Linked DNA regions of Homo sapiens: all the other regions are linked to region 1. The links come from fine-mapping of genetic effects on gene expression. A gene starts in region 1. Each other region holds a variant in brackets. All regions are shown on one strand. Distances are from middle to middle.

Region 1 (8,102 bases):
ATATCATACATATACACATACATACATCATTGCTCATTTGTTTGTTATAAATAGCATTAACAGCATTTTTCAAGTTATATCCTGGGAGTGTTTATGATTTACTTATTCTTCAACTAATTCCATAACAAGATTTGAGGTGCTTAGAACAATTCATGCCAAGTTAAAACAAAATAATTGGGCAAATTGGGATAAAGAATAAAATGGAGTTGAAAAACAAGAGGCCCAGGTAATGTCAGTTCAAAATATGCTTACCTTTAACTACTTTAAATTTACAGGAGGTATAGTTACACATTTTGGCTGAATCTCCCAGAGACTAGAACTGTTTGAGACACTTCTGTTCCCCAATCCCTTGTGATATGTTTCTCAGGTAATAGGCCTTCACAGTAACTCCCAAACTATCATATATACCACACAGACTTGAGATTCACTATTGAGAGAATCTATGTACTGTTTTTCTTTTTTTTTCTTTTTTGTTATAGAGCCGGGGGTCTTACACTGTCACTGAGGCTGAAGTGCAATGGCACGATCATGGCTCACTGCAGCCTTGACCTCCTGGGCTCAATCCTCTTGCCTCAGCCTCTCGAATAACTAGGATTACAGGTGTGTTCCCCCATGCCTGGCTAATTTTTAAAAATTTTGTGTAGAGATGGGGTCATGCCATGTGGCCCAGGCTGGTTCAAACTCCTGAGCTCAAGTATCCTTCTACCTCTCCCTCCCAAAGTTCTGAGATTACAGGAATGAGCCACTGTGCCCAGCCTATAGATTGTTTTTCTTGAAGCAATTTTTCAGAAACCTTCCTGGTTTCTGATAATTTAACCCTTTCAGGTTAGGAGAGAAAAATGAACATTTTGATATTACCCACTGTCTTAGTCCATTTGTGTTGCTGTAATAAAATATCACAGACTGGGATATTTATAAACAATAGAAATTAATTTCTCTCAGTTCTGGAGGCTGGAAACTCCAAAATCAAAGTGCCAGCAGATTTGGCAACTGGTGAGGGCTGCTCTTTGCTTACAAAATGGCACCTTGTTGCTGCATCCTCAGCAAGGGTCAGTGCTGTGTCTTCACATAGTGGAAAGAATAGAAGGGGCCAACTGTCTCCTTTGGGCCTTTTTTTAAAAAGGCACTAATGCATTCACAAAGGCAGAGCCCTAATGGTCTAATCACCACTTAAAGGCACCTCCTCTTAATACTGTTGAATTAGGGATTAAGTTTCAACATGAATTTTGGAGGGAATACAAACATTGAAATGATTATACGTGTTTATTTAATCAAGTATCCAACAAAAGCAAATAATTCAAGCCCCAAATTCACTGCATCTTTAGTAGATAAGCAGAGTTTTAAATTACGATTGATCTCCTGTTAGGAGGAATGCATGGATTTCCACAAGAAAAAACTGTACTGAGGAGAAACTTTCCACAGTAATGTGCCACTTTTCAGTCAACGACAGACCACATATATGAGTCCCATAAGATAATACTATATTTTTACTGTACCTTTTCTATGTTTAGATATGTTTAGACACACAAATATCATTGCATTACAATTGCCTACAGTATTCAGTACAGTAATATGCTGTATAGATTTGTGGTCTAGGAGCAATAGCCTAAGTGTGTAGTAGGCTGAGCCATCTATTTTGTGTTAGTACACTGTGATGTTCAGAGAAGGATGAAATTGCCTAAGGATACATTTCTCAGAATGTATCCTGTTGTTCGGTGACGCATGACTGTATTCCATGAGCACTATAATCACTATCATAGTAACACATTAGGAGAGAATTCTCATTTCTAAATCCAATATAATTTATCACCCATTAGTTCATACTCTACTGCTTTGATTGCTTTTCTTTGGTTGTGGCTACCTGCATACAGCAGTAAAGTTTCAGAAAAACTGAAGTCGCAAAAGGTCAATTACTCAATGAAGGAAAGATAAACCATTGCATTGGGGGACTAGAAGATACTTTTAAAAGTTCTCAGATTATCAATTTAATGATGTGTTTCTATGTAGTGAATAATGCCTTAAATTCTTGCCAAGAGTATTTAGAAGGAAGTTGTCAGAAGTATATCAGCTAACTCATTTTTTTTTATATCACTGCTAATGGTGTCATTCACACATTGTGCAACCCATAATTCCAGATTTAATTCTACCAAAAAATATAGGTCATTGCAAAATGCCATATTAAAACTGCCAATGCATGACAGGAAGATGGGGATGCAGACAAAGCAAAGGATGACACCAATTCCTTTTTTAAAGAAGCAAGATAGGGATTGGACAAAAAGGCTGAGCCATTTTTAATGGATACTTTTGAGGGAGTGTTAATTCCAATTTAATTAAAATGATGCATTAATTTAAAATTGGGATAACTGGTTGCCCTCGACTGCACCTGGGTTGCGCCAGTGCTCTCGGATTAACCTAATTGTACAGAGGTGCCCTTGTTTTCTAACTTCATGCACAAAGCATTGGAAATTATTTGTTTGCTTTTTCTTTTCCAAGTAAATCTTTTTCCAGTTATGCATAAGGGAAGTTTGAGGCAATGGTTAAAGGCACTTAAGTTATAATTATTGCTGTTATCATTAACATTAAGCACGGGTATGGCTTTGTTGCAAGTTACCCACCTACACCTGCAAATCTCTCTTGCTAGCACACGCCCCAGCTCTCTCCACCCGCAGTGGTCCGTGGCTGGACCGCTTTAAGTCACTGAGCGGGCTGGGCTCTGAAGGAGGTCGGTCCCGCTCCTCCCAGACCCAAGCGTAGGGCTAGGGAAAAGCTAGGCGGGAAGGTCATTGCACTCCCAGGCCCCAGGAAAAGGGCCCAGGGTCTCATCATCTCTTACTTTCGGGCAAAACTTCCCACATCGCGACCTTCCCTCCCTGGGGCACTCTGAGAACACACCCAGTCACCTAGCGCGCTCCCCAGAAGTCGGCTTGGCACACAGCGCACCCCAGCGGCCGCGCGGCCTCCTTCCAGCCGCCGCCACTTGGCTTCCGGAGAGCTCGCCGGGCGCTGCCGCTGCCGCCGCCGCCGCCGCCTCCTGGGAACCAGGGGACTGAAGAGCCTGCGAGAGCGGAACACTGCCGGACCCCGGGTGGGGGGGGCGCAGCAGCTGCGCCTGGCCCCGCCCACCACACCTGGGCGCCCGTAGAACCGCGCGGGGCGGGGCGGGGCAGGAGGCTGGCCTGGCGCTCCGGCCGCTTTGTCGAAAGCCGGCCCGACTGGAGCAGGACGAAGGGGGAGGGTCTCGAGGCCGAGTCCTGTTCTTCTGAGGGACGGACCCCAGCTGGGGTGGAAAAGCAGTACCAGAGAGCCTCCGAGGCGCGCGGTGCCAACCATGGAGCGGGCCGGCCCCAGCTTCGGGCAGCAGCGACAGCAGCAGCAGCCCCAGCAGCAGAAGCAGCAGCAGAGGGATCAGGACTCGGTCGAAGCATGGCTGGACGATCACTGGGACTTTACCTTCTCATACTTTGTTAGAAAAGCCACCAGGTAAGAAGAGGACCCACGGAAGACCCGGGGCTGATTTCTCTCCCCTGTTGAATTGTGCCCTTCGTTCACCCCTGTTCCCAGGCCCTTTGCTTTTGAAGTAGGTCCTCGGTCCTGTTACGAGGTAGAAACCTCAACTCTAAGCGAGCACAGTCGAAAAACTCAAGTGTCGGATTTGATACAACTTGCTCACAAAGTTCAAATACAAAAATGTACTTGCCGACCTCCCACCCTCACCCCCGACCCTCTTGGTATTCCCCGGGAACATGATTATTTTCATACATCCGTGCTCACGGGCCTTCCCCTAGCCCCTCTCTAGCCCTCTGGTTCCCCAAAATCCAATCAGCAAAACCCAAACAGTTTCTGAGCCCCTTCCCTGCAGCTCCGGAAGCACCATTTCCAAGTCGGTCTTGATGGCTCCGCTCCTCCCCCGTCCCCCCTCGCCCTGGCCCTGGCTGGGCGGGGAAGCTGGGGTGAGGGACGAGTCCACGGGACAGCCCAAAGGCAACATGACGGAACCTTGCCAAAGTGAGTGCGGTTGCCTTTTCCCCCCTTCCAGTCTCCTGCTTGTCCCGCGCGCCTCCTTTCACTCGCTTTTCCGCCGAAGGCTGTGCCGCCAAAAGTAGAGCTCTGCAGAGGGGTTTGCGGCGTGCACACAAAGGGCGCAGGGGAGGCGCCGCCTGGAGCGGACCCCAAGGGGCAGCGCAGACCCCAGAGGCCAGCTCTTTCTGGTCCAGAGCCAAGCGCCGGGGCGGCCCTTGCGGAGGGCGGGGAGGAGGGAGCCTGTCCTTTTGGAGGCGGCTGCGCAGCGGGCAGTCGGGGCGCTCGTGGGAAACGCTCGCGGGAGAGTTGGGGAGGAATTGAGACTGGGAGCAGAGGGACAAGAAGAGTGGAGCAGAGAGTGCTTGGCGGGCGGGTGCCCCGAAGCCTGAGGAATTGATGCATAGTCGGGGTGCGTGGACTCCAGGACGCGCCCCTTTGCAGAAAGAGTCCGTGCCCCGCTGCCGCCTGCTCTGGGCAGCGGCCGTCGGGCAGCGGGTGCTGGCCGTCTTGGCCGGGAGGGTGACACACGCCCGGCAGTGATGGTCGAGGAGCCCGCCCGGGTTCGACGCCCGGGTCCCACTCGCCGGCGCGCGGCCGCGGCTCTGCCGGTCGCTCCCCGCCAGGGGGCGGCGCAGCGCGGGGCGAGCGGGAGGCGACGGGCGGCGGCGCGGAGGCCGGGGCCGTGAGGGAGCTGGTTCTGAGTCGCCGACCTCACCTCACCTCACCTGCGCGCGTTGTTGCCCCTACGGAGCCTCCTGGAGTCCAGGATCGGCGGAGTTCGAAAACGAACTTCCCACGTTTGCTATGTTGCCCTTTGGAGACAAAACAAGGTACTTCCTTCAGCATCCCCCTACGTCCCTTCCCACTTTTTCCGGGGGCGCGGCGGGTCTCGGGTGCTGGGTGGTGGCGCCCCGGTGGCACCAGTGGGACGATGTATCATTGAAAATTGACTGTATAACTTTTGTTGTTGTTGTTATTCTTTGCTCTCTTGCAGATGTATTAATAAGGGTCTTAAATTGGGCCCTTTTTAATCTTGTTTTGTTTTGTTTTGTTTTGTTTTTTTCCTAAGGAACATCCAGAGTTGGTGTCAATTTAGTCACTTTCAGGGTTTTTTGACAGAGGGGAAGGCTCCGGGATTAATCTTTTCAATTTAATAACCCAGCCCTTCTTTTAAAATCGTCTTCCCCCGCTTTCACCTTCTTCCTTCAAAATCCTAAATCTTGAGCGCCCAGAGGATAGCCCTGAAAGGGCACTTTTTTGCGAGTTTAGCGTGAGACACTAAGGCCATGGAGGTCTAGAATGATCGGTTGCTGTCGACTAACAGTTTTCAGGGGTCACCTGCCCCTCTGAGGCCATCTGCACCCACTTTCCTTTCACTCTGCGCATTCCCAGCCTTCTGCTCTCCTTGAATTACAGCGCATAGAATGATCAGGGGGCCAGAGAACCAGGCCGATTTTTAAAAGTATGTATTGGACCTGTTCTTTAGGCAGATTATAAACAGTTTAAAGAAAAAAAGTTATTGTTTAATAAATCAGCATAAATGTCCTTTCTTCGTTCCCTATTTTTCTTTTAAAGATGTAAACTAGGGATGGCTTGTTGGTCGTTTTTGACTAGTCATAGATAGGAACACTGCATTTTCAGAACCTACCAACACTTTGAAAGTGTAGCAACATTTTAATGGAAAATAAATGGAAAGAGCTGAGTTACATTTCTTTTCCCATTACTTTTTCTCCCAAGCAGCATAGGATCAAAATCCTATTTCTCAAATTTACCATGCTCACTGTAAAATTTAGATCATCTGAGGCTCTAAAAAAACTTTTAAAAAATTTTCGGTTAGAGTTTTTAAATTACAGTTGATGTTGGCAACAGGCTGAACACTTTCTGTGATATATATATGTATGTGTGTATACATATTCTTAAGAGGTTATGTTGAGTGTAAGTTGGAAAATGAAAGTGTAAAATATTTAATAGTGCAGGTCCTCAATTTTAAGAGTTATAATAAAGTGCTGAGAGTTGTCAGAGTAAAGAATATAACCTAAGAATTTGTGTGTAGCCAGAGGTCTTTCATGAAACAATATTCCAATTTGGTTTTATATTTGGTGGCATTAACAGGAGACTTAAAATGTGAATAAGAGGATGGACATTTGTTGATTATAAAAATGCAAACCACTAACCCCAGTGTGGTTCACATTTTGTGGTAAAAACTTATTGCATACGTTTTAACTTTACAGCTAAGGATTTTTTTTTTTAAAAGTAGGAGCTCACATTACTTTGCTTTTCCCCTCTTTTTACACTTTGTAAGTGTAAAATGAATATTGTATGTGATTCAGGAAACCCATGAAACAAAATAGTTCTGTAGATGCATGCGGCATGTTTTAAGATTTAAAATATATTTATATTCACCCAGATCGTCCATCTGCACCAGTAATCAGGCTTGCTGATAAAAACAATTTCTGCATTATTGTTGTCATTCGACATTCATGCATGATTTTCCATCCTTTTCTCAGACTAAATGATCTACACTCAATGGTAGTTATTGAACATCAAGGTTCTGGCATTCCTAAATTCTCAAACACCTGTGAATTTGGGTTGACCTTGAAAGCATTTATGCCATTATATTACATTGTTTACTATCACTGTCTTCAAGTAGAGAGCTACGCATCTTATTAAAAGCTATAGGTTGGGCCTGGCACGGTGGCTCATGCCTGTAATCCCAGCACTTTGGGAGGCCGAGGCGGGCAGATCACGACGTCAGGAGTTCAAGACCAGCCTGACTGACCAACATGGTGAAACCCCGTCTCTACTAAAAATACAAAAATTAGCCAGGTATGGCGCGCGCCTGTAATCCCAGCTACTAAGGAGAATCGCTTGAACCCGGGAGGCAGAGGTTGCAGTGAGCCAAGATTGCTCCACTATACTCCAGCCTGGGCAACAGAGTGAGACTCCATCTCAAAAAAAAAAAAAAAAAGCTATAACTTGGAGCTTTTTAGTTATCACAACCTGTTTATGTCCATTTGAAGGTGTCAATTGAATGATTCAGAACATAGTCGGTTGGCATAAAAATTAATTTGAGGCCAATAAATCACATCTGGAAAACTCCCAGGTCACTATTGTAGACAATTTGCAGTCCTGAAGGCCTCAGCTACTGTGTTAATTGAGGGCTTTAATGCGTATGCCTTTTACAACTGAAGCTTTCCTGGTGCTAATGCTGCTTAACAGCTGTTGTTATTCTTGACAGCATATTAGAATAAAGTTACCTTTCATTAATTACTAATCAGCTCTGTGATTGTGGGTGATGTTTTAGGTCATTTAATATTGTTAAGGATGACATGATTGACTTTATTGCTTTGTTTTGTACAGGCAAAAGCTCGAGAATATTTGGCATATACTGGAAATAAGAGATATTAAGTGAGGGCAAGTTTTTATGACAGCTTGGATCAAAGTCCAGAAACAGACGTTTTACACTCCCATATAGCTTTCTATGATAGACTTTATTTGATACTGCAAAGCTGTGCTGAATTAATTGAGGTTCCTGGTCCTGTGTTTGGAATTCCGTCCTTCATTTTTTTTCCTTGTAATTCTTCTCTCACTTCTAAAAGCTGTAGCATTTTTATTGCACGGTATTTACAATACAATCAGATTATGTATATAAATATTGCTATGTATTTTTTTAAATTATTGTTTCTATAATTATATAGGAATATAAACTTTCCACAATTTTCAGACAAATGAATTGTTAAGCATATTTTGTGAGGCAGTTGTTAGTGTTGATGATAATAAAACCCTCTGAGCATTGACCCAGTCTAACTTTGATATTGTTTATAGTATTTTTATAATGGTAATTCTGGTGCAATAATGGCCTTTTTTTCTTATGTTGTTCATAACCAGGGTCCATATAACCAGCTCTAAGCTGCTTTTAGTGTCCTTGAAGCACTCTTCTGGATTGCATTCTTCCTGCCTGGAGAAATCCATAGGAGCCCCTGAAATAATGTTTCTCATTGCTCTTCTATCTCTAGTGTTTTCAAAGTTTCAAATTCAGACCCATGTTAGAGCCTAAACTACATGATTCCTAAAAATGTGGT
Region 2 (8,111 bases), 120 kb before region 1:
TTCCTCTCAAGGGCAATTGTGTGAGAGTTTCAGTGGGAAATCATTAGACATCCACTTTACAGTCCTTGTTTGGCTCCTTCTCGCTACTTTTTGTTTCCTAATCTTAAAAAAAAGAAATCTTTAAAAGGCACTTATTTTTCTTCAGTTTATAATATAAAAAAGACTGCATTGACATGGTTAAATTCCCAGGACCCTCAGTTCTTTAGGGATAAACTAAATGACTGATATTATCACCTACACAAGTGTCTTAAATTTGATGGAGCTTATGTTGAGATATAAAGTTTAAATTTTTTACCTTTACCTTTTAATTCCATTTTTCCACAAAATTTTTGAAGTTCCCTGTTATACAATTTAAGTTCTGCTGTACTTAATTAATGCACAAAATTTTATTATGAAATTTTTTGAATACTTATAAGTTGAAAAAATTTTACAGTGAAGACCCATACCATCAGCACTTAGATTCTACCATTAACATCTTAACTGTCTTGTTTTATTCCACATCTACCAATCCCTCCCTTCATCCATTAATCCATCTTATTTGTTTTATGCACTTCAAAATGAATTGAAACATCAGTCCACTTTTTTCCTATCTCAGCAAGTATTAGTGTTTTTTGTTTGTTTGTTTTTTAAACATGAACAACAAACACATTTATCTCCATTGCAGAAGACTGTCAGATGCAGGGCACATATATTTGATGTAGGAGCTGGGTTCCTGCAAATTCAATTTTCTGCCCATATCTAGAAAATACGCAGAGAAATAGCTAAGTAATATCTTGATGTCCCATAAATGGGACCATGTTTACACTGCATATGTTGTACAAACTTGTCTTATTGACTCCTTTGGCTTTTGCTTGTCTCTCCCATGACCTGGTCCTCCCTTCCATACCCCTCTGCTCCTCCCTTCCAGTAAATAATGGAAAAAGCCAGCCAGGTATGCCATCTGTCATATTTCTCTGCATTTTCATAAACCAGAAAGGAGGGATTTTTTTAAAAAAATGCTTTGCTTTACAAAAATTGAACCATAGTCTCTTACTCTGCTGTATGAATTACCAATACTTTTTGCTAATTTTTTTATTTGGTTGTCTTTCTCTTACTTTGTTGACACATTATAGGTGTTGATTCTTTTTGTATCATTTCTTAGAAACATTCTTTCCCAATTTAGTATGTGTATTCTACCTTTATATATGGTTTTATATATTTTGTCATAATTTTAAAATATTGTGTATAACCAGTTGTATCTATCTCATAGCTTCTGGGTTGCCTATCTTTAAATCTCCTCCATTAAGCCATACATATAAACATATATTCCAAAATTTCTTCTAAAACTTACTTTTTGTTTTTGCTGATTATAATGTGAAATACAAATTCAATTAATACCTGATTTAATTCCGTATACAAACTCCATTTTGAATGCCTACAATTTTGTTTTTTGTTTGTTTTTAATTATGATGCCACTCAGACTGCCATTGCAAAAGTCATCAATTACTATTCTAGAAAGTGCTGATTTCCCCTGTGTTATGGTTAACTGCGTGCATGTCTCCTTTCCTCTTCTACAATGTAAGGCCCTTGAGGACAGATGCCTGGCATGCATCTTTATGTCCTTGTGCTGGTTCTGAGCTTGTTTGCTAATGGGTCTATTTCTCATCTTCTGCTCTGAATCTCGGAGATGCCCGGGAAGAGGGCGGCTGTCTGCTGCCTGCATTTTCTCTGCTCCCTCATTGACTGCCTCAGCTGGGTTCAATTACTAGGAGGCAATAGTTGAAGACTGAAGAGTAGGAGGGAAGGAGAAGCCAGGGCATTCCTCCCCTCTCTCTGAGTCAGCCAGCATCTCTGGAGACAGCCCACTCTCCTCTATGATCCCAGTTCTTGCTCAGGACAACCTACTCTAGTTCCAGGATCTGCCTGTAACTAGGGTCCCTAAGCTCCTGTATGACAGCCTCCTCCTTCTGTAACCCCAGAAGATAGTGGCTTTCTGGTGTTGCTAATCTCTGGTTAACCTCACTGCCCGCTCTTTGGTTTCTCAGAGTTCCCATCACTTGCATAACCCAATTCCCTGGTTTAAATTCTCTATAGTTTTTTGGTTGAGCCCTGACACACCCTCCAACAGATTTAGCCATGTGCTTTGATTAGAGAAAAAGCTCAAATAAATATATAGTTTTTTTTTTTTTTTTTTTTTTTTGAGACAGAGTCTCACTCTGCTGCCGTGGCTGGAGTGCAGTGGCATGATCTTGGCACTGCAACCTCTGCCTCCCAGGTTTCAAGCGATCCTCCTGCCTTAGCCTCTGGAGTAGCTGGGATTACAGGAGTGTGCCACCACACCTGGCTAATTTTTGTATTTTCAGTGACACAGGGTTTCGCCGTGTTGCCCAGGCTGGTCTTGAACTCCTGACCTCAAGGGATCCACAGCCTTGGCCCCCAAAGTGCTGGCTTTACAGGCATGGGCCACCGTGCCTGGCCTAAATATACAGTTTTTTAAAGCAATGATTATGACGGCTTTCCACACTTTAGCACAATTACTGGGAACTGTTCATTCTTACCCATTCGACAGCATATGCAATATAATTAACCAAAATTGCTAAGTGAGTATCATCACATAACCACTACCTCCAAAATTAGAGCACTCAATTTCCCCATCACCAGAGCTATCTTCATTAACAGATTTTATGGACCCTGGACTTAGTTCAGTTTCTGTGTTCTTCATTGCCATTCAACAGCATCTTTTCACCTATTTCTACTAAATGTATAAATTATTGAAATCTGTCCTCTTCAGGCCTCCATACTCTCTACTATCTAAACTGACCTGTCAACACTTACTAAGTGACTCCACAAATTTTTACTAAGAAGAGAGTATCTGCTAAGCACTATGCAAAGCAGAAACTATAAGGGTCACTAAGATATAGTCTCTCTGAGAGCTCAGTCAGCTGGCAACTATAATGCAATGTGACAAAGGATATTGTGGTAGACAGAATTCTGAGAGGGCCCTCAAGATCCCCTATCCCTGGTATACATACCCTGTACAATCTCTTCCTGTTATGTATGGACAAGCCTTATGGATATAATAGGATATTTGCTCCCTTGCTTAGGTTACATTATATGACAAAGGTAATGGATAGTCACTCCTGTGATTATGTAACGTCACTCTGTCATAGAAGGTTGAGAAGAGAGATTCTCCCACTAGCCTTGAAGAAGCAAATTGCCATATTAAAGAGAGGGCCATGCAGCAAGGACCAGCACTGAGAGTGGGCCCCGGACAACAGCTGTCAAGAAAACAGGGACATCAGTCCTACAGCTGCAAGGAAATGAATTCTGCCAGCAACCTGAGGGAGCTTGGAAGCAAATCTTTCCCTAGTCATGCCTCCAGATGAGGACTCATCTGGCCAACATCTTGCTTTTGGCCTTCTAAGACCCTGAGCAGAGGACATAGCTAAAGCATTCTGAGCTCCTGCTCCACAGAAACTGTGAGAGGATAAAGTTTGTTTCTTAAAGCTGTTATGTTTGTGGTAATTTATTACACAGCTGTAGAAAACAAAAGCAGATTTGATGAGGTAAGCAGAGGCCATCATTAGGACCTACAAGAAAATACCTAACCCAGTCTCTATGGTCAGGGATGAATTCCTAAAGGAAGATGTAAAGCTGAGACCTGAAGACTCTGCATGAATTAGTCCAGGGAGGGAGAAGGGAATAGGAAGAAGTGGGGAGAGAGGTATTCCAAACATAAAACCCTGGAATTGGGTGCAAGAGAGAGAGAAAGACAGAGAGAGAGAGAGAGCCTGATCATGAAATCTTCTTTAGATCTCTA[G/T]TTGTTTGCTAGTTACTTCTGGCTCCAAGTCATGTTTAAACCATATTCTCTAGGACTCTATAACCTATGCTTATATTTCATCCAACCACTCTCATCTCATTCCATCATTTCATTCTGTACCCTAACCACCAGCCTTCATTTGTGTTAGGAAAGATCTGTGTTGTGTTGCTGTTGTCTTTTCATTGTAATTCCTATCCCAGACATTTTGCCAGAAATATCCTAGGTGCAGAGAACAGCTTCTTTGACTCTCAATAGGGCTCCCCCATCTTTTCGTATAATAACCATTTGATCATCTCCAGGAAGCTGTCCTGAAGTACTTCCTCTGAGTCAGCGGCTCTCTGCCCAGAATCCCACACCTCATCCTCAATGATGAGCTCCTGTAATGACTGTGCACGTTTCTGCCCATGGTATCCCTTGCTAGCATGCCTCTTCCTCAGCTTCTTGAGAGCTAGGACCATATCCAAGTTATGTTCCATCTTATTGTAGTTTCTATTATCATATCCTACACAAATACCTGCTGACTGGCTGCTTCATTTTCCTACAAGTAAGATTCAATGAGAGGCTGGACTTTTCAAAGCAGAAAGCAAATCTCTCTCACCCCTAGCCTCCAGATTACCATTCGGAACTTCTTTTCTCTTGAGAAAGAAGTATATATGCTTGCTTCAGCTCCCTTGAGGACTAGAATAACAGTAAAAATATACTTTTTGAGTAAGGACTAAATAATTAATAGAGAAATTGGCAATGGACTAAAAATTTCATTTTTGTCTTTAGTACCAATCAAGTATATGTATAGCTAAGCTTTTTTGAGTGCATATGATGTGCCCACCATTGTGTAAAGCACTTTACAAGGATGACCTTATCCCATTCTCACAGCAAACCTATGGATATATGAAGAATTTCCCATTACACAAAGAAATGAAAACGTAGAGAAAGATGTAGTAAATATCAAAGCAGACACTCACCCCTGCCGTCTGTGCCTACTGCCCATGTACTCCACCACTGTAGTCTCTTCAGGTCTTAACCTGGTCATTACTCCATGCAGAAAGTCCTTCCTGACCAAGGCCCTAACCAAATAATGTCGAGCCTGGGAAGCAGTCTCTTCCTCAGGAGACTTCACATGCTAACACAGAGCTAGGGCCTGAACTGAGATTGCTTAAATTTCAGTCACTGCCATTTATCAACCTGATGATCTTCAACTTTAATTACTTCACTTGTAAAGTAGGGATTATAATAACAATCTCATGAGGTAGCTGTGAGAATTCAATGAGGTAATGCATGTAAAGGTTTATTCCAGAGATTAGCAGTTAGTAAGCACTCAAGAAATATATTATTATTACTACTCTGATCCTCCAGAGAGCTGAAGCAAGCATATATACTTAGAGTAATGCACTTCCTACTAGTAAAAGAACAAACTCCTTCTTGACAAGAATTCTTTTCCAGGCATTAAGATGACGAATGTCAGATATGCTGTAAGTTGAAATGTTCCTCTGAAATATTATCTTAAGGTACTTTTCAAATTATTTCTAATAGAGGAAAGGGCTGTTAGTATTTTTACCATTATGATTTTTAATGGTGAACCTTGAACAACATTGTTGTAAACTAAGAAATACTTCAGTTGATTCCAAAATCCACAATAACTTTGCAATAAAATAAATAGAAGGGTGTTCAAGAGAAAGGCTCAGAGCAGCTGTACACCCAGTACATCAGACAGTGAGCAGTATGTTCATAGCGGGAGGTGGAGTTGGCTTTTTCATTATTTTCCATGTAGATTATGAAGGACAAACCTGAAAATTTTTCAGAGCTCCAGTATTTTTCAGTTAAACACTGGAAATAGTGACTATAATTCATATTAGAGATTTCCTTTTCTTTAAAATACAGATGTGGAGAGAAAATTTCAGCATTTTAATCTTTTCTAAATATGGTCTCCTTTAGTACAGTGGAAAGGACTTGACTGAGAGCCAAGAGATGTGGGCTTCGATGCTGGCTCTGCCTTAACTAGTTGTGTGGGCTTGGCAAGCTGCTCCACCTCACTAGACTCAGCATCCTTATCTTTACAAATGAGAGGACTGGGAGCCAGGTGCGGTGGCTCAAGCCTGTAACCCCAGCACTTTGGGAGGCCAAGACAGGAAGATCACTTGAGGTCAGGAGTTTGAGACCACCCTGGCCAACATGGTGAAACCCCATCTCTACTAAAAATACATAGCTGAGTGTGGTGGCAGGTGCCTGTAATCTCAGCTACTCAGGAGGCTGAAGGAGGAGAATCACTTGAACCTGGCAGATGGGAGGTTGCAGTGAGCCAAGATCTGGCCACTGCACTCCAGCCTGGGCGACAGAGCGAGACTGTTTCAAAAAAACAAAAACAAATGAAAGGATTGGGAGCCCAACTGGATGATCCCACGAGTTTCTTCCAGCTTTCCTATCCAGTGGAATAAATAACGTAGTGTCTCCTATTTATTTACTTTGGCATCTTTTATTTTTAAAGTGGACAATCACCTTTAAAATATAATAGCTGTATTACATGAAAGAGGGCACTGTGAAAACATGAGTTTAAAACATCTTGGAACAGCATCTTGGTGGCCACTAACTGGAGGAAAGCAGACTGTAATTAGCAGCCAGAGTCAATACAAAATTAAGTCATATGGAAGAGTATTCACATAGTTTCCTAGGCACAGAAATGATACTTTACATTAGAATTATATTTCAAAATATTTAACAACTAGGTGAAAAAATAAAGCAAAGTATATTATAAATAAAAGATATTTTACATGCAAATCTCAGTTGTAGCAAGCAAAGCCTTCCCACAAATTATTTTTACACATTCAAATTAGATTTTAATTCATAACAGCCAAAATTTCCAATGAGCTTACATATATATTTGTATAATACTAAAGTATGTAAGTTATTGCAAATAGGCTTAATGAATTTCAAAGCATTATACGTTTTTTTAAAGTAGCCTTCTGTGAAAGTACTTCTCCAACCCAGCTGTATATTCTTGCTTCAGGAAACTGTGCAAGTCCAGGGAAACACATTGATCTTTCATGCCTCAGTTTTATTACCTGTGAAATGGGAATACAGTAACACCATATTCCTCTGAATCTTCATAGAAGAGTAGTATGCTCCACCAAGGTAGATTGGAAATAGGAATTAGGAGTAACTATCAATGTCTAGCACAGGGGTCCCCAAATCCCAGGTCACAGATTGCTACCTGTCCGTGGCCTGTTAGAAGCAAGGCCACACAGCAGGAGGTGAGCGGTGGGCAAGCAAGAGAAGTTTCATCTGTATTTACAGCCACTCCTAATCGCTTGCATGACCACCTGAGCTCCACCACTGTCAGATCAGCAGCAGCATTAGATTCTCATAGGAGCGTAAACCCTATTATGAACTGTGCATGTGAGGGATCTAGGTTGCATGCTCTTTATGGGAATCTAATGCCCATGATCTATCACTGTCTCCCATCACATCACCCCGAGATGGGACCATCTAGTTGCAGGAAAACAAGCTCAGGGCTCACACTGATCCTACATTATGGTGAGTTGTGTAAATATTTCATTATATATTATAATGTAGTAATCATAGAAATAAAGTGCAAGTGCAAAATAAATGTAATCACTTGAATCATCCTGAAACCATCCAAAAATTGTCTTCCATGAAACCAGTCCCTGGTGTCAAAAAGACTGGGAACCACTGGTCTAGCAGCTAATGAAAGTCATTTCAAAAGTGATAGAATGGCATTTCCCTTGACGACTCATGTGAATTTTACTGGGATCCTCCAAAATCTCTGATCAACTCCTGATTTATGAATTGAGTTTCTGAGTTTTGTTGCTGTTGTTGGTGTTCTTGTTTGTTTTGCTTTATTTTTGTATTGTTTTGTTTTGTTTTGTTTTCTTCCAGGAACTCTTATGAGCAAATGTATTAATTTGTAGGCATATTTTGAAACCGCATTTTTATTTTTATTTTTTTTTTGAGACGGAGTCTCGCTCTGTCGCCCAGGCTGGAGTGCAGTGGCGCAATCCCTGCTCACTGCAAGCTCTGCCTCCCGGGTTCACACCATTCTCCTGCCTCAGCCTCCCAAGTAGCTGAGACTACAGGCACCCACCACCACACCTGGCTAATTTTTTGTATTTTTAGTACAGACGGGGTTTCACCGTGATAGCCAGGATGGTCTCGATCTCCTAACCTCGTGATCTGCCTGCCTCGGCCTCCCAAAGTGGTGGGATTACAGGCGTGAGCCACCGCACCGGGCCGAAACTGCATTTTTCTAATCATGTTCTACTTTCTGTCAGAAGGTTATCTAATCCCTAATTCAAACTGT
Region 3 (8,111 bases), 27 kb before region 1:
GAGTCACAAGGGACTATAAATTAACTGTGTTATCCCCATCGCTAACTATATACTGTCATATAACACTTACAAGTAGGATGGATGGGAAGATGAAAGCTAGAAAATATTTTCCCCTCTAAATTAACATAGGTTAAATCTTAATTCAGAAGTTTGCATTTGGGAGGCTTATACTGCAAAAAAAAAATTGAAATATAAGTGACAATCTTAGGAAGAATAAGAAATAATTTAAAATATGACAAGCTCTATGAAACATTAAAGATGCTTAGATAAGAAAAAGGATTGTTCTGTTTTCTGAAATGTGTAACTCCCACTTATTTCAGCATAATATAAAATGAAATATTCACTTGCTGATTTTAGAGAGAATGGAACTTTTTATAACCCTTTTATGGGAGGATGCTATCAAATCCTGTATAACCACAATAAGATATCAGTTCATACTAAGACAGCTATAATTTAGAAGATGGACCATAACAAGTGTTGGCAAGGATGTAGAGAAATTGGAACCCTCATACATTGCTTGTGGGAATGTAAAATAGTGTGATCATTATGGAAAATGATTTGGTGGTTCCTCAAAAAGTTAAACATAGATTTGTCATATGACCCAGCAATTCTACTCCTAAATATACAAGAAAATTTAAAATATATGTTTACACAAAAACCTGCACATGAATGTTCATAGCAGCATTATTCATAATAGCCAAAAAGTGGAAAAATCAATTGAAGAATGAATAAACAAAATGTGGTATGCTCTTATGATGAAATACTACTCAGTCCTAAAAAGAAATAATACATGTTACTACATAGATGAACCTTGAAAACATTATATTGAATGAAAGAAACCAGACACAAAAGGCTACATATTGTATAATTTCATTTATATTAAATGTCCAAAATAAGCAAACTATTAAGACAGAAAGTCGATTAGTTGGGCTGCATGGGAGGCAGTGGGAAGTGACAACTAAATGGGTCAGGATTTATTTTGAAAGTAATGAAAATGTTCTGAAATTGGATAGCGGTGATGGTTGCATGATTTTGTTTTAGAATATACTAAAAACCATTAAATTATATACTTTATTTGTTTGTTGTTTGTTTGTTTATTTTTGAGACAGAGTACCCAGGTTGGAGTGCAGTGGCGTGATCTCGGCTCACTGCAACCTCCACCGGGTTCGAGTGATTCTTGTGCCTCAGCCTCCAGAGTAACTGGGACTACAGGCATGCCCCACTATGCCTGGCTAATTTTTGTATTTTTTGTAGAGACAGGGTTTCTTCATGTTGGCCAGGCTTGTCTCGAACTCCTTACCTCAAGTGATCCACCCACCTCAGCCTCCCAAAGAGCTGGGATTGTAAGTGTGGACCACCACACCCAGCCTTAATCATACACTTTAAAAAGGTGAATTTTGTGGTATATGAATTATATTTCAATTTAACAGAAAAACTTGTATATGTGGGAAGTAACTAATTTTAGAAAAATAACTATTATCTTTTAGAAAAAGAAATTTTGTCTTATAATCTAAACTTCTTCAGCTTATAAAATATCCATCAAAAGGATAGTGCACATCAGCTGTTCCCTGTTCTGTAGAAAAGATGAAATAAAAATAAAAATGCTAAAATTATAAGCTTCATAATACATGGTTTCTTCCTGTATAAATTTTCCTGTCCAGTGGAGTAGGCAGACATACAGACAAATAATGACATGACATGAGATACATGGAAATAAATAAAGAGATCTATACAAGGTATGATAACAGAGGAGAGAGGATGTACATCTGAGTGGCATCAGGGCTTAAGAAGCATCAAAGATAGTATAATTTCATCTGAGTCTTGATGAAAGAATGCATATTCACCAGACACACAAGGTGAAGGCCAAGCATTTCAAGTTGTGGTAACACATGCAAGACAGAGATCTGGAAGAGCATTTCAGCTTCATAGATCTGCAAGTCTTTCTGTTGGGCCAGAACATAAGAGCTTTTGCAGACAAGCTGATGAGGGTTAAGAGGTATTATTCTTACAATGAAAGCAACCATAACCTCCCTCATGGGAGATAGAGTCATCAAAGATATTGTTCAAGGATGTGAAATATTCAGATTTCAATTTAGATAGATTATGCTGGCAGAAATGTAGGGCAAGAATTGGAGGAATCCAAGAATGGAGTCCAGGAGATCCTTAGAGAATAAATGGTTAAGGCAAGGAAATGATGAAGTGGAATAAAGATAAGGTGACCAGCTACAGAGGTACTTAGAAAGGCATGTGAACTGGGGAAAGAGGAGGAATTGAGAATGACTCATCTCTGACTTAGGCAGGAAGAACAAGGTTTGTTTGTGTTTTTTGAATTTGTAATCAAATTGCATTTAAACTTTAATATGGAATTTGAGGTGTCTGTTCCAGGTATAAGAAACCTAGAAGGCAGAGCTTTGAGTTTGCAGTTCAGTGAAGAAAGTCTGGGCTGGAGATATGAATTTGAGAGGGTTTAGAATATACCTCAAGTAGTGGGAATGAATGAGGTTGCCCAGGAAAAACAGAAAAAAGGACAGAAACCATCAGAAGCCCAGATTAGAGGTAAGACAGTACAGAGATGGCACATATTTCTCAATAAGTATTTGTCAAATAAATGAGCATATAAAAATCATATTTGCTTCCAAGGATAGCAGACAGGGTGAGGGGAGGAATATGGAATCAAAAGAGGTGCTATCAAATCTTTTCTAATTGTTTGTATATCACAATGAGAAATAAAAATCCATTTTTCTCAACATTGTCTGGACATATTATGTTGGGAGTTTTCAGCTCAGAGATGAGATTGCCAGAAAATAAGTATGAATAGAGAGAAGGGAGCTGAAGACTGAGTCCTGGTCAGGAGGCAGAGGCAGCTCAAGCAACAAAGACAGACAAGGCAGCCAGTGAAATAGGGCTCAAAGCAGATCAGTGTAGTGATTTGAAAACCAAATGAAGAAAATGGTGAAGGGATGGTCAGCTGTGCCAAATGCTGCTGATAGGTCAAGTTAGATGAGGACTGAGAATTTTATGCTGGATGTGGCAAGACAGAGGTCATTTGTGACCTTAAAGAGTGCTTTTCTGTGGAGTGGAAGGGAAGAAAGCCTAACTGCAGTGAGTTCCAGAGAGAGAGTTCTGTGAGAGAGTAAAATAAATTTGGCAAATACCTTAAAAAGAATATGTAAAAAGTTACATAGATGGGTAAATAGATAGCTGGACTCCAATTTTGCTTAAATGGGATTTACATATCCAGATAAGATTATGTAAGATTTTATTAAAATTCTACAAACTGACAGGTATAGAAAGATATTTGTTTTGAAACATTTTGTAGAAATATTGCTTAAAAAAATCAAGGAGGTTCAGGTAAAAGACCCAGGCAGAGAATGAGGAGGAGAAGAAAAGAGAAAACAGGGAATTCTACCATAAAGGGGGAGCAGAAAAATGGGCAAAGCTGAGGTGGGATGTGGAGTGGAGGGAGGGCTCTTTATAAATATAAATAAATATATATAATATATATTACGTGTAATATACACACACACATACATATATATATAAAAGATTGGAAGGTATCACAGCATGTATTGATGCTTTGGGGATGAAATAAAGTGTGATTATACAGAAGAGGCAGGGGATCAGCAAAGGCTCACAGAAATTAAGGAGGAACAGGACCTGGTACACAAGCAGAGAGGCAAGAGCCATGCTTATCCCCTAGAATGGCAGGAAAGGCAGAGCATGTGGGTCCAGCTGTAGGAAGGGTAATAGATTTGGGGGAATGT[A/G]ATTTTGCAGATAAGGAAAAAAGAGAGTCATAAATAACTTGCCAAGAACCAGGAAACCAGAATAGCTAATTTAATATCCATCTCAAAATTAATGTGGCATATGTTAAATGTTGATCTAAATGGGACATAGTATCATTATTTAAAAATAATAGTATTATCTTTGTAAAGTAGTTCTAGTCTCTTTGTAAGTGTAAGAACAAAACGCTATAAAAGTTTGAATATAGGTGGAAGCAGTTGGTTTTAACATACCAAATAATGAAAGCATTTACATGGGAATCCATGTGAAGGAACTTCTAATACAACTGCAGGATTTCTATGGTCAGTTGACTAGCCTGACGTTAAACAGGAAGCCATCATAGCAATATTTATTTTAGGGATACATATCCAAATCAAACAAGCTCAGAGGGATACACTTCCTTGCAAAATGAATGGAAAATAAATAGTCTAATAGCTATCTTCCCAGTAATAGTATATTTTCACAAATCGCTTTTAAATAATGACGATTTTAGATAGGAAGTATTCAAAATTCTTCATCAATGAATACACAAATAGATGAATAAATCTTAAAAAAACATTATGGATCCTATGAATAGTTGAATTATTCTCAATAAATGACTTACCTGCCCTTCTAGAACATTGCCCGTTTGGGTCCTAAAGCAGCAAAAACAGTTTTATAAATTCTAAATCCTTTAGCTTTTGTAAAATCATAATAATAATATACGGGATAAATCTATCTGAATAGAGTCACATTTTTACTAGATACTGGGAAAGGCTTGAACAAGCAAGGTGATTTGGATTTCAAAAGGCATTTAGGAGATATTTTATCTCTTAAATTTAAACTTAATAGTGGATACGATTATCATACCTATTCAGGTTTTTACTGACTTGTTTTGCAACTACATTTTCTTTACAGTTAATAATTAGGTTTCCTTTAAATTAAAAGGTTTGGATGCTGTTTCTACCTTTTATAAGGGGATAATGTGGCTTAAATAATCTGGGCTTTTAAGTCCAACAGGGAAAATAATTGTATTTAAATAAAGCACTTTGTATATAGTGATAGTCAATAAATATCTGCTAATTTGGTTTCAACATTGTAGCTATTTCACATGATGTAATAAATGTTTAACATAATGAACTATGAGTTCAAGGATGAGTTGGAAAACAGTTGCTATAAGATTCATCAGGGACAACACAGTGAAAAAATTCTGACCAACAGATTGGATGTCCTACTTTTTATTGAATTATTTAAAAGATAAATTTATTGTTTATTTTAGTAAATGCAAAATATTAAGACGAAATCTCTCTGGAATTCCAAAAGCCAATATTCTAGCTTTCATAAGAGCGGGATTAGTTTTTACCACTTTACTCCAAATAAATACGCCATGAATACTAGTTGGGATGGAAAATAAGCAAACTTAAGAAGACATAAAAACTAATTGCTTTTTGTTTCATTTTTGAGATGGCGGTCTCACTCTGTTGCCCAAGCTGGAGTGCTGTGACCAATCATAGCTCACTTCAGGCTTAAACTCCTGGGCTCAAGTGATTCTCCTGCCTTAGCCTACCAAGCTTTTAATATATTTTTTAAGAGATGGGGATCTCACTATGTTGTCCAAGCTGGTCTTGAATGCCAAGCAATCCTCCTACCTCAGCCTCCTGAGTAGCTGGGATTACAGGTTTGAGCCACTGCACCTGGCCCAAAAATTGCTTTAAAAAATATATATAGTAACTTGATTATAGGCCATAAGTAATCATTTAACAGATAAAAACTTTTAAAGTTTTTAAGTAAATTAGGTTCCTATTTTATACTCTATAGTATATTCAAGGCATGAGCTTACTTTTGGAATATAAATATAAATAAAATGATAATTCACAAATTGCTAATTGCTCTTCCCTGCTAGGTCTTTGAACAAAATGCACATGGCATTTTAGGTTAATTGCTTAAGATAGTCTCAATTTGAAACCCCATATTGATAGCTCTGTGATCATTTAAATTCAGAATATCTTTTTTAAATTATGTATATTTTCATCATCTACTTAAGGGTCAAATGTTGTTTTTGAGCTTAAAAAGTATCATTCCTAATTGAAATAAATTTTAATGGCTGTGATTCCAGTGGTCTTTAAAAGTGCATTAAAAGTAATTTGTGGTCTTGGCTTAATTTGTTGGCTTTTTAAAATCTTTTAAGCCTTTTTAAAAAAATTGTAGTAATTCCATATGGTGTTAAAATATGCAAAGGTTATACAGGAATTCATACATAAATTATGTACCCATCTTCACTCTTCACTTTTCTTTGCCAAATAAATTATTACTTGAGTTTCCTGCTATCACAGGATACATATAATTTCACAAAACATACAATATACAATGTTAGGGAACTAGAACTTGATGACTTCAGATGCACAGGCATATTTGAATTGCTAAGTTTTTAAACTAATGTGGTCTTCAGAAGGGCTGTATTTGACTTGGCAGGCCCCTATGTATAAACTTCTGGGTTTGCAAGACAGTCCTACCATTTTGATACCATGAGTCAGGCCTGTCTTTTTTTAATGTGTTGTATTGACTCAACACCAGAGTTATATTTACAGCAGAACTGTTGATTAGAATAAAATGTGGATGGTGTATCGGTTAGAATAGTTTCACCTACAAATAACAGAAAGCCCAACTCAAACTAGCCTAAACAATCAGGTATTAATTGGCTTCTCGTCTAGAAGAGAGACTGGAAATATTTTACTTCTGGAAGAAGAGAAGGAGGGCAGGTGATTTTATTCTGTGGTTCTAGCTCATTTCTCTGTTCTTAATAGAAGCTTCATGTTCAGGGTAGTAGCAAAACAGCTATAGAAGGATCCTGACAATGTTCGAAGAAGAGGGTCACACTGAGAATCTCTCTCATTACAATGATGAATGCTTCTCAAAGAATCCTTTGAAAATCCACCCTAATATTATTAATTGGGTCACACATCATCTTCTGTACCAATCACTGGCTCTAGGAATGAACTTAGCCTTAGATACAGCAAAGTCATCCCTGGATCCAGCAGTGAAGTCAGGTCCTCCTTAGGCCCATGTGAGGTGTGAGACAGTAGAAGATACCTGCATAAGGCCTGGATATTGTTAGATGAAGGAAAATAATGAATGCCAGTAGAGAGCAGAAATGTCTATGTCAAATGGTGATTGGTGGTCACATGTAAAATGTAGCCCTCCAAAAATCAAAAGCAATACTCTTCCATACATAAAGGATTTTTATTCTGTAGCTGTAGAATGACTCAGAGTTGGGAGACTTTTTGCAATTCCATCTTTCAAGTTCATGGGGTGCTTTTAAACTTTTTTTGAAAGGGGATACATACCAGGTCAGTCATTCTGTAGCAACTATTTTTTAAATCAGTCTGTAACTTTGGAAATGGTATCAAACATTCCATTTGTTTCCCCTATTTGTTACTGTGCATTTCAAAGTATATATTTGCTAACCTTTATTCAACCAAACTTTAACAAGCACTTCCTATATTTAATGCATAATACTGGGCGTTTTTAAATACATCTATTATACATGTTTGACACATGTATGATTCATGTTAAATTGGTAGAGGAGGTGGAGTTTAAGATGGATATGCTGAGCTACTTGCTAATAGGAATGAGTGATTTATTGTCGCAAAATAAGAGATATTCAAATTGTTGTTACATTACATCTTCTATTTATATTATATTTTGATTTTGTCCCTAGACTAGCTACATTTAAGCATCCTACTAGTAGTATTCATACTTCACTTGTCACTTGATTTGTGTGACCTTAATTGATGTTTATACAACCCATTATATGATTAGAGATCATCCTCATAAACATCTAGAAGAAATTCTTAAGCTCTGTAAACCTACTTCCTCATTTATAAAATGGAAAGAAAATCTACCTTACTGAATGTGGGAAAGTTTAAATGAGATGAGGTGTGTAAAATCTTAGGGCCATGTCTGACATAAAGTATTCCCTCAACAGGCCAGGTGCGGTGGCTCACGCCTGTAATCCCAGCACTTTGGGAGGCTGAGGTGGGCTGATCACAAGGTCAGGAGTTAGAGACCAGCCTAACCAACATGGTGAAACCTTGTCTCTACTAAAAATACAAAAATTAGCCAGGTGTGGTGGCGCATACCTGTAATCCCAGCTATGCAGGAGGCTGAGGAAGGAGAATCATTTGAACCTGGGAGGCAGAGGTTGCAGTGAGCCAAGATTGCACCACTGCACTCCACCCTGGGTGACAGAGCAAGACTCTGTCACAAAAAAAATAAATAAATAAAAAATAAAAAGTGTTCCCTCAATAAAAGATAAGCAACTTTTGGGAAATGCCTATTGATGCAGACTCCCA
Region 4 (8,111 bases), 69 kb before region 1:
TTTTGGGTTTATTCTATTGACTGACTTTTCTTCAACATATGATTCTCATTTTCCTGCTTCTTCACATATGGAGGAATTTTTTTCCTGGATGTTGTACATTGTAGTTTTACATTTTAGGGTGCTGTGTTTTGTTATATCTTTTAGTGTGGATCTAGATAACCTTTACTGTAGTGCTCTTTTAGCCTCACTTTTAATGAGAGGTTCTTCTAGGTTTCTGCTACATGCATCATATATTCATGAAAGTCTCTTCACTTTGGCTTGTGGGAATTCAGATGATTCCCAGACCTTTGTAAGCTCCAGGGATTGTTCAGCTTACAGCTCCTTCATAGTTGTTTCTCTCTCTGAAATTGCTCACATCCAGTGATGTCTTTGTAGATTGACATTCAGCCGAAGACTCAATGGAATTCCTATGAAGCTTCCTGGAACACTTTTTCTGCATAACTTCTTCCTTCTCAGTAATCTGCTCCACAAATCCTAACTGCCTTACCTTCCCCAGATGCCTATTTCTCTCTCCTCAACTCACTGACATCACCAAGCTTTGTTTGGATTTCTCTTCCTAGTGCATGCTGCAATGGAAATTAACTGCAGGTAGAAAGTCTGGGCAAAGGTATGGCTCAACTCATTTGTTTCTCTTTCCTCAAGGTTCACCGTCTCATGCTACCTACTATCAAGTATCATAAAACAGTTATTTCCTCAACTTTGTCTAGTTTTCTAGTTGTTTATGGATGAAGGGTGATTATGTATCCCCATTATCTCCCGTGGCCAAACTCTGACATAATTTAGAATGGAGTTTCATTTTAGAAAATCCTGTCATACTCATAGGCATGGGCAAAGACTTCATGACTAAAACACCAAAAGTGATGGCAACAAAAGCCAAAATTGACAAATGAGATCTAATTAAACTAAAGAACTTCTGCACAGCAAAACTGTCATCAGAGTGAACAGGCAACCTACAAAATGGGAGAAAATTTTTGCAATCTATCCATCTGACAAAGGGTTAATGTCCAGAATCTACAAGGAACTTAAACAAATTTACAAGAAAAAAAAACCCCATCAAAAAGTGGACAAAAGATATGAACAGACACTTCTCAAAAGAAGACATTTATGTGGCCAAGAAATGTATGAAAAAAAGTTCATCATCACTGGTCATTAGAGAAATTCAAATCAAAACCACAATGAGATACCATCTCACACCAGTTAGAATGGCAGTCATTAAAAAGTCAGGAAACAACAGATGCTGGAGAGGATGTGGAGAAATAGGAACGCTTTTACACTGTTGGTGGGAGTGTAAATTAGTTCAACCATTGTGGAAGACAGTGTGGCAATTCCTCAAGGATCTAGAACCAGAAATTCCATTTGACCCAGCAGTCCCATTACTGGGTATATACCCAAAGGATTATAAATCATTCTACTATAAAGACACATGCACACGTGTGTTTATTGCAGCACTATTCACAATAGCAAAGACTTGGAACCAACCCAAATGCCCATATGTGGTACATATACACCATGGAATACTATGCAGCCATAAAAAAGGATGAGTTCATGTCCTTTGCAGGGACATGGATGAAGCTGGAAACCATCATTCTCAGCAAACTAACACAGGAAGAGAAAACCAAACACCGCATGTTCTCACTCATAAGTGGGAGTTGAACAATGAGAACACATGGACACAGGAAGGGGAACATCACACACCAGGGCCTGTCAGGGGGTAGGGGACTAGGGAAAGGATAGCATTCAGAGAAATTCCTAATGTAGGTGATTGGTTGATGAGTGCAGCAAACCACCATGGTACGTGTATACTTATGTAACAAACCTGCATGTTCTGCACATGTATCCCAGAACTTAAAGTATAATACAAAAAAAGAAAATCCTGTCATACTTTTGAAATATAAAAATAAAATTGAAATGTACCTTCAGCTGTAAAAATAATAAAAAGCATTTATTATTTGATCTCATAATCTCTGGAGTCCAATTCCTTCTACTAGCCAGCAAAGTGAATAAAATTGACCAAGTAAAATTATAATAACTGAGGTTGTTTTGATTTTAAAATATTTGGGGGAGGAAACCAGTCAACATAAATTAGTCACAACTGTTTCTCCACCACTACAGAGTCTCTCCTAACTCTCTTTCCTCTATAACTGACATTGGGGTCCCAGTCAGCATGGTAGCAAAGAGAGAGACCTTTGGTCCATGCGCTGTCTTTTGCTGGGATTTTCCCTTCCCTCTCTCATCTTGGATATCCTACACCAGTGCCTTCTGAGGTCTGACTAGTCTGGTCCTGTCCTGTGTTTTTGAGATGTCATCTGTGGATGCCTCTGGATCTTGTCATGCTCCCTAGTTCTAAAGTCCCTATAGTGGCTTTTGTCTGCTCTACTGATTATCTAAATCTTTTGTCTGCTCTACTGATTACCACCCTTGTGGGTGACCCTGCAGCCATCAGCTGATTTTCCTCACCATGACATAGAATGCAGAATTCTTTCTGGTGGCCTTGAAACACTTCCTCAGGCATTGCTCTTCTGCCTAGAGGCTACATAGTACCAACACCAGTCTAAATGCAGGGCTTTGCTAAAGAGTTTACCACATTCCCCCTTCTCTCTCCCAAGGGCACTAGTATCCAAATAGGTGAGTCAAGTCACTCATAACTATAACTCTCCCATTCTCTTTCTCTAGTTTCTAAATTCTACTTCCCTTAGTGAAAGGGAATTCTCCTTTCTTGTCATAAAGAAACTTCCCCTGCAATATAGTCTCAGTTTTCTTTATGCTTTAGCGTCATGTAAATACAATACTCTAAGACTTGAAAGAACCAAGCCCACGCTTTTGAATGTAAAGGGAAATATGGGGGATTCATAAAACGCTTTTGTTCTTTAACAAAGAGTAGCTTTATGACTAGTCTTGCAATCGATTAAAAAATGTCAGCCTGGGGACTCAGAGAAGAATAAAAGACCTGTTTGTTCTGTATCTACCCTCACCCTGAATCAATACATGCCATTCACCAGGTGATTGATTCAACAAATGAGGCAGCTACCATACACCTACGGACTAAGGAACAAAAAATAAAGAAAACACTGATTTAATACCTGAAAAATATTATTTTTTACCTTTTCTATAGTAAATCTTTGCATGAGGATTGACTTCCATCATATCCTTCTCTTTTCTCCTAGCATTCACATGGCCTAGTTGTAAAAAGTAGTAAGATCTAAGATGCATAGATTACGTGAGGTATGTCAGGCACTGCTCTCATTGCTTTAAACTCATTTAATCCCCACAACAATGCAGTATGGGTTATCGTTACCCTCATTTTACAGAATGGAAAGCTGAGGCCCAGAGAGATTAAGTAACTTGCTCAAGATCACACAGACACTTTATCTTGGTTAAATTAGTGGATCTTTAATCCTCAGCATTTTCAGCTATAAAGTAAGGATAACAATTACAATAATATAAATGAAGTATTATGTATAGTATTTCAGCAAAATCTTCCCAGATGCAGATGGCCTGGGTTCAAATTCTATGTTTCTGAGTTACTGTCTGGTAACCCTGGGTTCCCTGACCTCTCTGTACCTCAACTGTAAAGCAGGAAAGATGATAAGTATATTTTCCTCTGAAGATTATTATGGGGATAAAATAAATA[A/C]ACATAAGACTTGAACCAAAGCCTAGTACACAGCAAATTATCAATAAATGTTACTGTTTTCAAAGGCCCACCCTACCTTATCAGAAATCCTGGTGGCAAGGTGAATTTTGGAATTTGGACTATTGTACACAAGGGATAGAGTCCACATGGAATTATGGAGTATTACCCCAGTGAGGTCACAGAAAACACCATGACCAAATATTAAGATTTTTGCCTCAAAATGCATGAATATTCACTCTAAGTGAGATAAATAAAGACTAAAAACACCCTCTGGCAGTTCAGTTCAGGTTTTGCTACTGAATCAATCATTGCAAAATGTAAGTTTTCAGAGGCTTTTTATTTTAGAATTTCAGATGGGGTATTTGGGGCTGTATTATTTTATATTATGAGAATTTAAAAAGGTGACCTATGTAAGCCAAGCTAAGCACAATGCCTGGCATATAATAAGCTCTTCATAAGTGTGCATTTGCCATCGATTTTGAAATTAATACCATTAGCATTAGCATTATATTAAATTCACAATATAGCTACAGTTAAAACAGCATCTTCATTGTTATTTTACATATTCTCCTAGTCATTTCCCCAGATGACTTCCTGTAAAAGTTTTCAGATTTCCTTATTCTATCATATTTTTGCCTGGGCATGAATCTCATCTATCCCCTTTATTTCATTTGCCTTACTTGGTGACCAGTCCCTTATTTGACTCCCCAGCCTTGTCTCTGTGATAGGATCAGTCACAGTTAAGGAAACAGCATAGTCTCATAGTAAAAAGGAAGAAAGAAAGAATATAATAATGGCTGTCATTTATTGCACATTTGCCCTGGGATCTGTGCTAGACACTTTATATAATTCTCCCATTTAATTCTCCCCACTACTTAATAAAGCAGGTATTATCACTCTTATTTTACAGATTGAGAAACTGAGACACAGAGAGATTAGATGATTTGCCTAAGGACTTTAGGAAGAAGTCCTTGAATTTGTTCGTGTGCTTTTTTTTTTTTTTGTCCACTTCTATGAGAAAAGATCTTAGTTTATTTACATTTTCTAAAAGATACACACAGTTGCAAGGTTTAAGAACCACTGAGACTATAGATGTTGTAAAAATACTTGATATTTGTGCAGACTAATGGGTGCTCTTGATTCCCAATTCAGATGGGATTTATTTACAAGTATCCCCCTCAGACCTAGGCAGTGTAGCTCCTAGGGCACTCAGCAAAGAGAGGGATTAAAAGACATCCCCAACAATAACACTTTGCCTATCAGAACCACAATTGCAGCCTTGGCTACTTAGACCACTTTCAGCATTTTCCCCACAACTTCTATTTCATTCACTCCCTAAATCTGATTGTATACTCTCTCCAATCAGTCTCCTCACCAGATTAAAATCTCCTTTTAAACCAGAGGCCATGTCTAATTCCTCTTTCTATCCATCCCCAAACTACAATGTTTTACACATTGTGACTTCTTAATATGCTTTTGATGAAACAGAACTAAAGCTGTATCTCAAGGGATATCTCAGATGGGCATTTCAACCTCAGTTGTGTCATTTCTCACAATAAGGACACGATTGAAAGATTAAAATTCAGCTAAGGCTTTTACCTTTCTCTGAGCTCCCAGAAAGTGAGGACTCTAAGATTTCTTGTCAAATAACTGTAAAAGAAAATTTTAAACAGAGTATTTCCTTAGGCTAATATCTGCTTAATTACTCCTATCTACCAGTCTCTGAGATCAAAAAATGTACTCTGTTTTTCCTCTAGTCCCGATATGTGTGAGTTTTGTTTGTTTATTCATTCATGTATTTATTTTATTTCTTAGAGACAGAGTTTTGCTCTATGACCAAGCTGGATGATAGTGGTGTGATCATGGACTGGAGTGTGGTGGTGCAATTCTATTTCACCGGGCTGAAGCACTCCTCCTGCCTCAGCCTCCCAAGTAGCTAGGATTATAGGTGTGCACAACCATCCTTGGCTAATTAAAAAAAAAAAATTATTTTTGTAGAGACAGGGTCTTACTATGTTGGCCAGGCTGCATGTGTGAGGTTTAGATGTATAGAAGTCAGTGGTGGATAGAAACTGTCAAAACCCAAGCCAATTCAATAATTTTTTTTTTTTTTTGAGATGGAGTTTCACTCTTGTTGCCTAGGCTAAAGTGCAATGGCACAATCTCAGCTCACTGCAACCTTCACCTCCTGGGTTCAAGCTATTCTCCTGCCTCAGCCTCCTGAGTAGTTGGGATTGCTGACATGCACCACCGCACCTGGTTAATTTTGTATTTTTAGTAGAGACGGGGTTTCTCCATGTTGGTCAGACTGGTCTCAAACTTCCGACTTCAGGTGATCCGCCCACCTCGGCCTCCCAAAGTGCTGAGATTACAGGCGTGAGCTACCACGCCTGGCCGCCAATTCGAGAATTTTTAAAAAATAATAATAACACAGACAATCCCCCTCATTTCTGTATTTTCTCATATAGCTTTTCTATGAAACATACATATAAAAATGATAGAATAAAAGCTTAGTTATAATGATATGACTTCATCTCAATCGTCTGTGGAACATGGACGATAAAATTATTTGAGTCTTTCCGTTCTCCAGAAATGATCTTTGTCCCTTTTCCTTCAGTAAGGAGTTTGTTTGCGTGAAAGTATGAGTCTTTATAATACACTGGCACTATTCTTTTTGCTTTCTTTGAAGACAATAAACACTCAAATTTATGTTTCCGTATTCATTGAAGTATTTGCTGGAATCTCATGTTCACATGGAGAAATTTAGGGGCAGAAGAAAGTAGAGGGTGGGAAAGTTCAGGAACGTGTCTTACCTGTTTTTAATTAGACCACAACTCACAGATCAATGAAAATAGAAGTGTTTCAAAAGATAATTTTTATATAACTGAGAAAATGTCAGTTGTCTACATGGAAAAAGTATTATGAAATCTTGTGGAGCGGCTGTAGGAAGAGGCAGGGCACTAAAAGAGGCCCTCAAGCCTCTGTTTGGTGTTACCACTATTTATATGGTATTTGATGTGTCAAACCATATGACCCCTCTATTGAAAAATGTGAATAAATTTTGCATTTTTAGTTAATAAGCATTGAGAAATAGAAGGTGTTTCTTTTTATTCTTTCTTTTTTCTGTTTCTTAAGGTGATATCTATTTACCTCACTACATATTCTGGGTACCACAAAGATACCAGAGATTTCAAAATAGAAAATGTACGCCTAGCCTTAACATTGGCCCGTAAAACTCCTCAAATTGCATCTTGTAACTCTTTTTCAAGTGAGTCCATTGAAAAGGTAATATCAATTTAATCTTACATAGTTTTTGTTTTTATAATGAAATACTCCCAAAAATCTGAGAAAATTCTTAGTTTTTTCTTTATCTGAGAACCCATTCTATAATAATAATACACTTGATCTTAGCCAAAAGGCCAAGAAGCGATCTATAGTAATAATAGACACATACTGACATATTTCTTAATTTCTGAATAAAAAACTAAAACTTGGAATAGTGAAATCAATTTTCTAAAGTCACTCAGTAAAGGACAAAAATTTTGGAGAAAAAGAGTTTCTTTTCACTTTACAAATAGTAAATCCAACTGAAGTTAAAGAATTTTTTAAAAATGTAACAAAGTTTAGTTTCTGTTTCATCCTGTGTGCAGTAAACATTAAACTCTAAAACTCAGATATATTCACTTTAATTTTCTAAAATAGATCTATCAATGTTAAATATTCAGATTGTTACACACTTGTTTGCATATCAACTTTTAAATTAAATTTTTATTACAAAGCTAATAAAAAAAGAAAAGAGGGAGCATTAACAAAAAAAAAAAAAAAGTGGTACATTCTAGTTTTCCAGTTGAAAGGAAGAGCACTTCCTTTTCTCATGACAACAGAAGCTCCCTGGATAGTTGGTTCACATCTGATTAGAATTTGTTTCTCCCTCCAGCAGAACAGTTATGTTGCTTCTCCCAGCAGCTGATTGGGTCAGTCCTCCTCAGGGTTCTCAGCTGACCCCAGGTTATTACATTCCCAAGGCTGAAGACTTTCCTTTTTTCCAGTACTTAAACTTCACTTCTCTCTTTAGACATGCAGGCTCCTTCTTCTGAGAGGTAATGTAGAAAGACTGCTGAATTATGGCTCTTTCAAACTGAACACTGATCTGTTCTCTCTCTTTCATTCCTGGGAATAAATGGAGAAAGATATGTTTAATTCCTGATGTGACTTTGACCTCTATTGTCTCAGTTAATAGAATGGACATTTGAAATTTTGCACTAAAAAAATTGTTACAGTTATTTTATTTCAGCTTTATTTCAAGAAAGCAAGCATGCCATTGTATTGAAAATTGTAAATAACATTGGAAAATAAAGGAATCATTGAACAAGAATTAAGTCACTAACCCAGTTTATTTTTAATACTATAGATATAGATTCTACAAAAGAATGACATACTTCCCTAGTTTACATAGGAATGGACTAAGATGTGTTTGGTG

The links. PIP is the estimated chance that this variant, and not a neighbour inherited with it, causes the effect.
Region 2: its variant is fine-mapped to the expression of PDE5A in whole blood (TOPMed, PIP above 0.99).
Region 3: its variant is fine-mapped to the expression of PDE5A in whole blood (INTERVAL, PIP above 0.99).
Region 4: its variant is fine-mapped to the expression of PDE5A in whole blood (TOPMed, PIP above 0.99).

The regions. Positions count from the first base shown.
Region 1 is chr4:119,623,898-119,631,999 of GRCh38, reverse strand. PDE5A (phosphodiesterase 5A) reads left to right here and starts at 3,196. Exons shown (of 21, transcript NM_001083.4): 1 at 3,196-3,480. The coding sequence starts at 3,329. It overlaps LOC107986192 (a long non-coding RNA gene), which reads right to left and starts at 4,210. Exons shown (of 1, transcript NR_165235.1): 1 at 1,245-4,210. RefSeq lists silencers at 2,863-3,262, 4,483-4,762 and an enhancer at 4,303-4,352.
Region 2 is chr4:119,740,807-119,748,917 of GRCh38, reverse strand. No RefSeq gene overlaps it. Among named protein-coding and RNA genes, the nearest start is that of LINC01365, 60 kb to the left of the region's middle. The variant G/T (reference allele first, on the strand shown) is at 3,800.
Region 3 is chr4:119,651,317-119,659,427 of GRCh38, reverse strand. No RefSeq gene overlaps it. Among named protein-coding and RNA genes, the nearest start is that of PDE5A, 27 kb to the right of the region's middle. The variant A/G (reference allele first, on the strand shown) is at 3,765.
Region 4 is chr4:119,692,800-119,700,910 of GRCh38, reverse strand. It overlaps LOC105377397 (a long non-coding RNA gene), which reads right to left. Exons shown (of 3, transcript XR_939161.4): 3 at 7,382-7,801. It also overlaps the pseudogene LOC124900920. Among named protein-coding and RNA genes, the nearest start is that of PDE5A, 68 kb to the right of the region's middle. The variant A/C (reference allele first, on the strand shown) is at 3,632.